Linked DNA regions of Homo sapiens: all the other regions are linked to region 1. Evidence: fine-mapped expression QTL. A gene starts in region 1. Each other region holds a variant in brackets. All regions are shown on one strand. Distances are from middle to middle.

Region 1 (2,500 bases):
TCCTTGCCTGCACAATGTGGCTGGCAAGATTTGGTCTTCTCTCACAGGGTGGTGGTGAGCTTTCAAATCCTGTGAAAGTGATCTCACAGGAGAGCAGTGGACACGTGGGAAGGCTGTTATTGTCACGGCATTCTGCACATCTGTCCGGACTCAATTAGCCACCTAAGGAGAGAGTAGGGCGGGGCTTCCACCGGCCGTGGGATATGTGGATAATCATCCTTCTGTATCTTTCTTCCATGGCTCCTGGGGCAGCTGGGGAAGCAAGCTGGATGGGCCTGGCCCCATGCTGCCGGATGAGGTGGATGCCTGGCTGTGGCTCTGGGAGAGCCAACCTCCCCCAGGGAACCCACTTTACACAATAGCAGTGGCAGCAGAGGCTGGCGAGGAGACAAGATTCGGACTCTGGGGAGCACTGATAGCATTTCCCGAGCCTCAGGTACATGCGGACCGTGACCCTCCCTGGGACCCCAGGGGGGCTGCTCCTCAGGACTAAGGAAGGAGGAGGGGGTGTGAGAAACCTTTCACCATATACCATAGAAAGCATTTACCTCAATGGCCTTGGTTTACATATGGGGAAACTGAGGCACATAAAGGGAAGGGAGCATGTCCAGTCTGTCCTTAATAGCAAGACCCACTGAATACACCTCTCCTGGCTCTCTGTTTAGTGTTTGGACGTTCAAAGATCCCTAGACTAGGCGGCGGGAGTTTCAGGGCCACGATCCAGATCTTACACCAACTGTGTGTGGCCCCGCACAAAATCACTCCCCGCTCTTTGGCACTTAAGTTGGCGAAACTGGGATGGGCTGGGACCTCAAAGGGCCATTCTAGTAGGGGAGTCACAGGCCCAGGTGGTGAAGGGGTGAAAGGGCATGATGTCTTGGGGTTTATAGTCCACTGAGCCTCGCCGGAGGTAACCCCGGCTCAGGGATGCTTTCGTTGCCATGGCAACCGCCGGGCCGGCGCGGGCCCCTGAGTGCAGCTGAGGAAGCTGGGACAAACCCTGCCCTTCCCAAGATGGCGGCGGCGGCAGGGCAAAGGGCGGGGTTAGACGCTGTCAGCCTGTCCAGACCGTTCCTCTGTTTTCGCTTGTTCCTACTAACAGCGAGCTTCCGCCAATACTTGTTCTCGTTCTTGGTTCCGAGCGTCCCGGGAGCCGGGAAGGGAAGGATTGTCTGCAGGGATTGGAGCAAATATCCAGTGGGGGGAAAGCCGGGACTTCCGCGTCTTGCCGGAAGTGACGTGACAATCGCGGCCACCGCCAGGTGGAACGGCAGGTGGGTTCAGGTACCAGCCTGGCCGGGACCCGGCTGTGGGACCAACGCTTCCGGTGAGCGACAGAGGCAGCTCCCCAGGGCCTGGAGACCCGTGGGGCGGACTCTGGGATCTGAGCCTATCGCCCTGGCCTGGAGCCCCCCTTTGTACCTAGTAAGAATCACCTACCCAGCCCCCCACCCGGAGACTGTCCCATCCCACTCCAGAGGGAAGAGGAGGGCACTGCTGTCCCGTATGAGGTGGTGGAGGGAGGGGTGGCGTTGGCATTTAGGCACTTGGGTTCCTTAAATCCTATGCTCCTTTCTCTCCCGGATCCAGTTCCCCATTCCCCTACCGAGCTGGGCAGTTAGCCAGCCCACTCCAACTCTCGGAACCATGTTTGCAGACTTGGATTATGACATCGAAGAGGATAAACTGTGAGTATTTTATTCCCCCAAGTTCCAGCAGTATAGGAGCCCCAAGTTCCTCATTTCCCTGGACTTCCCAGTCCCACAGACCCTTGCTTCTCAGCGGTGGATCAGTTGTTGTACTGAAGCAGCAATGGACCCTGCTCTCCCAGGAGCTCACTATTTGTAGGGGGCTGTGGACAGTTAAAGGGATAATCACAGCTCAGTGCCATAAGGGCACTATTAGCATGACTTGGTGACAAGAAGAGCAAAGCAGATGGAGCAGTGCTTCTGCTGGGATGGTCAAGGAAAGCTTCATGGAGGACGTAGCAATTGAACCAGGTTTTGAAGGTTGAATAGGAATATTGTAGACACCCTTCCTTCCCAACATAGGTTGTTAGTAGGACAGATTTTCCCATTAGAATATATCCTCTTTCAGATCAAGGAGTGGGTGCAATGCCTTTCTCTATGCTCAGCACTTAGTAAGGGACTTGACGTCAGTAGGTTGTTAGCGAATGTTTTTTGAATGAATAAGTGAATCAGCGTGAGTACTTATCATAAAACACCAGTCAATGCTAATTTATAGTGGAAACCGAGAGGTAATCGAGCAGTTGAGAGGTGGGAGGTGGACAGTTTAATAGAGGAAGACTCCCTGGAGTAGGTGGCCATCATACTACATAGATGCCTGATAAGGTGACAAGGACAGAACCTGGCTCAAATCTCAGAGATCGAATAAATGAAAGGGAAGGGGGACCTATTTTTATGGAGTGCCTGCTATGGACTGGGTTGCTGTTAGTGCCCTCCATGCATGGTTAGAAGAACTCTGATAAGGGTGCTCATCC
Region 2 (2,841 bases), 20 kb after region 1:
GACTCCAGGCGCGCCTGTGCTGCCCGGGTGGTGGGGAAAGGCGTGTGGGGAGAGGTGCTCGGGGGCTGTGGGAAGAGGGGCGTGGGGAGAGGCCATGGGGAGTGTCTGCAGAGTGGCAGAAACAGGGTGGCCACTTCTCCTGCTTCTCCTGGCCAGCCTCGGCCTGGTGTAATCAGTCATAGTGGCCCTTGTCACTCTAACGTGTTCCTGTTTGGACGATGAATATGGCCATCCTGAGAATGCGAGGGGGCAACAGGGTGTGCGAGGTGGGCTGAGTCCAGGATGGAAAAAGGGTTTCTGCATCAGCTTTGAGCATGCATTGCTGGGCAGAAACCCAAATGGGAGGCTTGGCAGGGGTGGGACATGGAGGAGGGGCTGGCTGTCACCAGGAGCCCACCTGGGTCCCCGCAGAGCCATCAGACAGACCACACTGCCTCCCTGAAGGGGGCAGCCAGAGTGGAGGCCAAGAGCACAGGCTGGAACTGACAGCCTGGGTTCGTTCCTGACCTCCCTGGGCCTCAATTTCCCTATCTGAAGTGTGGCACCTACCTTATTGGCTTGTTAGGAGATTAAATGAACATCTGGAGAGGGCTTAGAACAGGGCTTGGCACAGAGCAAGCACTCTTAAATCTTAAATAAAGTCAGACGGGCCGGGAGCGGTGGCTCACGCCTGTAATCCCAGCACTTTGGGAGGCCAAGGCGGGCGGATCACGAGGTCAGGAGATCGAGACCATCCTGGCTAACACGGTGAAACCTCGTCTCCACTAAAAATACAAAAAATTAGCCAGGCGTGGTGGCGGGGGCCTGTAGTCCCAGCTGCTGGGGAGGCTGAGACAGGAGAATGGTGTGAACCTGGGAGGCAGAGCTTGCAGTGAGCCGAGATTGTGCCACTGCACTCCAGCCTGGGCAACAGAGCGAGACTCCATTTCAAAAAAATAAATAAAAAATAATAATAATAAAGTCAAACGCAGTCACTGCTCTAGTGGTGCAGGGGAAGCCACAGGCCATATAAGTAGAAGCCGGCCAGGCATCTGTGGGGCTCCCCAGACCTTCCTGGGGCCTAGATGGAAAATGAGGGCCAGCAGGGACCAGTGGGGAGGGGTCACTATGGGCCGGGCTGGAAGGTGAGGGGAGTTTGCGGAGGGAAGGCGGCTTCCTCTGCAGGGGCCTGTTCACCACGCTCATGATTCGGAGGGAGGCAAAGAAAGGAGGGGTGTGATGTATGGGAGGAGGATAAATGCATAGAGGGAATACATCGCGTCTTGCCAGATTCGTGCACCTGGATCCAAGTGCAGGAGGTCAGATGTCAAAGTGTGAGGGAGATCGTGGGACGCTCCGTGGGGAGAAGGCAGGTGCTGGGATCAGCAGATGACCTGGCTGCCAGCACAGTGTCCACAGCAAAAGCCCCTGGCCCTGGACACCCAAGTTTATCCTCTAGTGGGAGAGATGCCCTCTGGGAAGGTGAGGGGACATGGCCACCTCGTGGAAGGCAGCAGGGCCCATGGTGTTACTGAGCGCCTGGTCCCACCCTCCCCAGGACCCCAGGGGACGGAGTCGTATGCTCAGCCTCCAGTGAGCAA[G/A]GAAGTCAGCGGGGCTGGGATTCAAACCGACCCTGACCCTGGGAACTGTGAGTCTTCTCAGACCGCTCGGGCCCCCCGCCTGCAGGCAGACCCCAACCTTGAACCCTAGTTGCTGCCAACCCCTCGTTCCCTCCACGGGAAAAGGCAGATGCCAGCGAGGGGGCCTTCAGCAGACAGCTCTGAGCAGTGGGGCTGGGCAGGAGCCAGGCACTGTGCCCACCCAGCCCTGTGCCCCTGAGCCCTGTGCCCGCCCAGCCCCTTGTGTCTCTACACCTGGGAACGATGGGTCTCTTCATCCATCTCTGACGCTTCCTCCCAACACTGCCCACCTAGAAGCCTGCTTAGGGGGCCTGGAGAGAGACCTCCCAGACTCCCTCCCACCACCCTGACCCCCAACTCAGGTGGCAGCCGGAGCCTGGGCGGAGGAATAGAACCTTCTGTCGTTCAGCTGAGCTTTATCACCAGTTTCCTGTTGCTCCATAGCAGCTTCACTGGCGATGGGGCAGGGCCTGGCGGAACTTGGGGCACAGATGAGGGAGGCAGTTCCCAGACACCCAGGGGATCAACTGGAGCCCAGACGTGGACCCCGGGAGTGACCACCCCAGACCAGCCTCCCAGCGTACCAGGCTCTCTGAGACAAGAAGCTGTGTTCCCAAGTCACTGGGCCACCCCACCCAGAGCACCCTGAGTTATACAGACTCGGCAGCCAGCCTCGGCCTCGCCTCTATTTCTGGTTCTGTGGGCTCGCCCCGGGCGCTGAGCACCTCCAGGGCCTCCAGGTTGCCGGGTTCCTCTGCAACAACAGGCAGGGGCTCAGAGTCCCCTTCAGCCTCAGCGTCCTCAGTGTCACTGGCTCCGCCCTCAGTGCCTGGGCCTGACGGGGCAGCTTTAGCACAACGCAGGCAGCAGTTGGTGGCGACAGCCATGAAGACCCCAGCCAGGGCCACCTCAGAGCCGGCCAGGTAGAAGATGATCTCATAGTTCTTCAACACATCCACCAGGCGGCCTGGGGAGGAGGAGGAAGAGGAGGGAGAGGTAAGGTCCTGTGGGGTCCTCCCCTCACTCTCCTGCACTCTCAGGTCAAGGGTGGTGCCACTGACTTGGTGAGGCTCCTGGGTGACACACACATGCCCACTCTTTATTCCTGTTTTACAGATGTAAAACCTCATGTGGATTCTGCCATTTGAAACCTTAAAAATGTCACTTGCTGTCCCTGGACCTCAATTGCTTAAGTGATATGTGGCTTCTGGTGAGGCGTCCC
Region 3 (2,841 bases), 650 kb before region 1:
CTTAGCCTTGGAAGCAGATCCCCTCAAACCAGCCCACCCGTGCCCCAGGGCAGCGTGCCGGGTCAGAGGAGCTTGATTCTGCAGTCAGACACTTCAGATCTGAAGTGGGTGAAAGTAGAAAAAGTGCAAACAGCCCAGGCACTCACAACAGGGAAATGTCCTTTCAAGAAAAGCCCATTCCAAAGTGGATTAGGACCCAGGTCCCGCCGCACCCCTGAGAAGGGTGCTCAGGGTGCAATCAGGGGCCGCAGGAGGGTGCAGGGCCAGCTGCGAGGAGAATCCCTCCTGGGTAAGAACAGATGGTGTACGTGTGTTTGTAGGTACCAGGAAACACGGGTCAGTGACAGCCTCTGGGGAGGAGGCCTTGGGAACAGGCAGTGGCCCATTCCTTTCTGCTGTGCACGCCGAGAGCATGTGCCAGTTCCCCAGGTATAAGGGGGTTTGTATACTTATGCATTGTTTTACACATACATGCTCCAAAACCCAGCAAATGCACAAAGATCACGAGGGCACACACATACACACACACCTGCCCTTGTGTGCCCAGCTTCCATCCAGCCAGCTCTCTCCTGCGGCCTGAGAGACAGGCGGTTGCGGCAAACAGACGGGGCAGGGCCAGAGAGATGGGTGGGCAGACAGAGACAAAGAGACAGGGAGAGAGAGAGAAACAGAACGAATGAGCTCAGCTCAGGCCCTAGGGTGATCCTGCTCAGAGCAGCCACTTTAGGCTGGTCCAGGGGCTGCGGGAAGTGAAAGTGCCCAAGAGGAAAGCCGGCAAGTCTCCACCCTCAGCCTGGCCACTCACTGCGGTGTGGCCCCGAGCCAGCGCCTCACCTCTCTGGGCTGCAGCCTGCCCACGAGTGCGGGCAGTGGGTGGGAGACCTGCTGGCTCCGACCCTCCAGCACTCCGGGGTCCTGGTTCCCTGTTGAGCCCCCGCTTCCCCTCTCCCCAGATGGTGCTGAGGGCAGCGTCCAGGTCAGCTGCCATCTCAGCCCAGCCAGGAACTCACTCCCAAAGCCCCTCCCTCCCCTGCCATCAGCCCCAGCATCAAATTGGAGAGGGACGAGCCGGGCACTGACCGGAAACCGCAGGCGTGGATACTGCTGTCTTCCTGCCTCATCTCACCTAATCCCCATCACAGCCCTGATCCCATTCTACCACACGAAGCAACCGAGGAGC[G/A]GAGGATGATCGGGCCGGAGCCCCACGGCCAGCGGGGGATGAATATGAATGAGCTGGGATGGAACCCACGCGTCTACTCCAAAGCCCATCGGCTCCTTCCACGACATCCTGTTCGGCAGGCAGTAGGAGGGGCCACAGGGGCAGACACCCCCACATTTCCTGACCTAGCACCCAGAACCGGGACTCCACAGGCCCCAGCCTGTCTCCAGCAGCCTCAGAGGTGACTCTAGAAGGGCCCCTGAAGCCTGCCTCCCTGCTCCGACCACCAGGAAAGCCAGCAAGAAGCCCAGTGCTAGCATTCCTGACTGCACGCCAGGCGTAGCACCAAGTGCTTCATAGTGTCACCCTTGGGTGGTGGGCACTACTTTTATTCCTACTTGACAGGTGAGGACACTGAGGCACACACAGGCGGGGCAACTTGTCATGGGTAGAATTGGGAACTGACAGCTGGGCCCATGGGCCTGATCACTGCATCGCCCCATCCTGTAGCCTGGGAGTTTTTCCACTCTGACCTGCGACCACCAAGCCAAGGAGTGTCTAGCGGGGCAGCAAAGGCCTCACCCCAGAAGCGCTGCTTAGATCAAGGGCCCTTGAGCCACCACCATTGGGGCACCTCAGTGCCAACCCCTCTCTGTAGCCGGTCTCTTCCCAGGATGATGCTTGGGGGTCCCTGGAGAGCCCCCACCTCCATCCTTGAGTCCCAGCCCTGGGTGAGGAGGGGAAGCGGAGAAGGTCTGTGTGCCCCCACAGACCTCAGACAATGTCCTCTGGGACAGGGGCTGTCCTTTGCCTGAGGTCCAGAGGGAGTGTAGGACAAGCAAGACTCACACAGCAAGCGGAGGCAGGAAGGGCAACATAGCCCTTCATCTCTGCCTCCCAGCTTGGCACAGAGGGCACCCTACCTCCTATGCTGGGTGGGTTGAGCTGTGACCCAGTGTGGAGACAGGGATGGGGCTATGGGTTCTCAGTAGCTTCTAGCTTCTCACGCAGCCCCTGGCAACCCTGTGGGCCTACTGTGTGCAGATACTCCTATCTCCAATCCTATTTCACTCCATCCCCTCCAGGAGCCTGGCAGTATCCCCATTTCACAGATAAGAAAACTGAGACCAGGACATGTGACCACTCAGGCGTGGGATCTAACTCACAAGGTCTCACTTCCCACCACCAAACAGGCCTTCCTGCAGCCCCTGCCCCAATCCAACCACTCCCAGCCCTCAGGGACTGCCTCTTCCAAAAAAAAAGTCTTCCCAGAGCTCTTGGAACCTCCGCTCAGAGGACCATCTCTCCTCCGACATTCAGAAAGCAGACTGAGGTTGGGCGCCTCAGTCTGTACACTCAGGCCTGTAATCCCAGCATTTTGGGAGGCCGAGGCAGGTGTATCACTTGAGGTCAGGAGTTCGAGACCAGCCTGGTCAACATGGCGAAACCTGGTCTCTACTAAAAATAAAAATACAAAAATTTTCTGGGCATTGTGGCAGTCGCCTGTAATCTCAGCTTTCTCTCCAGCCTGGGCAAACAAGCAAAACTCCGTCTCAAAAAAAAAAAAAAAAAAGAAAGAAAGAAAAGGAAAAAAGAAAGAAAGCAAACTGAGGCCAGCACACCCACAGTGCCTCCACCCTCAGACTGGGGCTCCTGGGAATTGAGGCTCTATCTCCCTCAGA

The links. PIP is the estimated chance that this variant, and not a neighbour inherited with it, causes the effect.
Region 2: its variant is fine-mapped to the expression of PICK1 in T cells (TOPMed, PIP above 0.99). The same link has a PIP of 0.9 or more in blood mononuclear cells and whole blood.
Region 3: its variant is fine-mapped to the expression of PICK1 in spleen (GTEx, PIP 0.96).

Annotation. Positions count from the first base shown.
Region 1 is chr22:38,056,163-38,058,662 of GRCh38, forward strand. It overlaps PICK1 (protein interacting with PRKCA 1), which reads left to right and starts at 1,242. Exons shown (of 13, transcript NM_012407.4): 1 at 1,242-1,425; 2 at 1,591-1,688. The coding sequence starts at 1,648. RefSeq lists enhancers at 694-1,319, 1,016-1,075, 1,320-1,943.
Region 2 is chr22:38,076,119-38,078,959 of GRCh38, forward strand. It overlaps SLC16A8 (solute carrier family 16 member 8), which reads right to left. Exons shown (of 6, transcript NM_013356.3): 6 at 2,019-2,586. The coding sequence ends at 2,270. LOC105373027 (a long non-coding RNA gene) reads left to right here and starts at 2,523. Exons shown (of 3, transcript XR_938249.3): 1 at 2,523-2,615; 2 at 2,736-2,829. The variant G/A (reference allele first, on the strand shown) is at 1,581.
Region 3 is chr22:37,409,564-37,412,404 of GRCh38, forward strand. The region is part of intron 2 of ELFN2 (extracellular leucine rich repeat and fibronectin type III domain containing 2); the gene reads right to left. Among named protein-coding and RNA genes, the nearest start is that of ELFN2, 16 kb to the right of the region's middle. RefSeq lists an enhancer at 987-1,488. The variant G/A (reference allele first, on the strand shown) is at 1,181.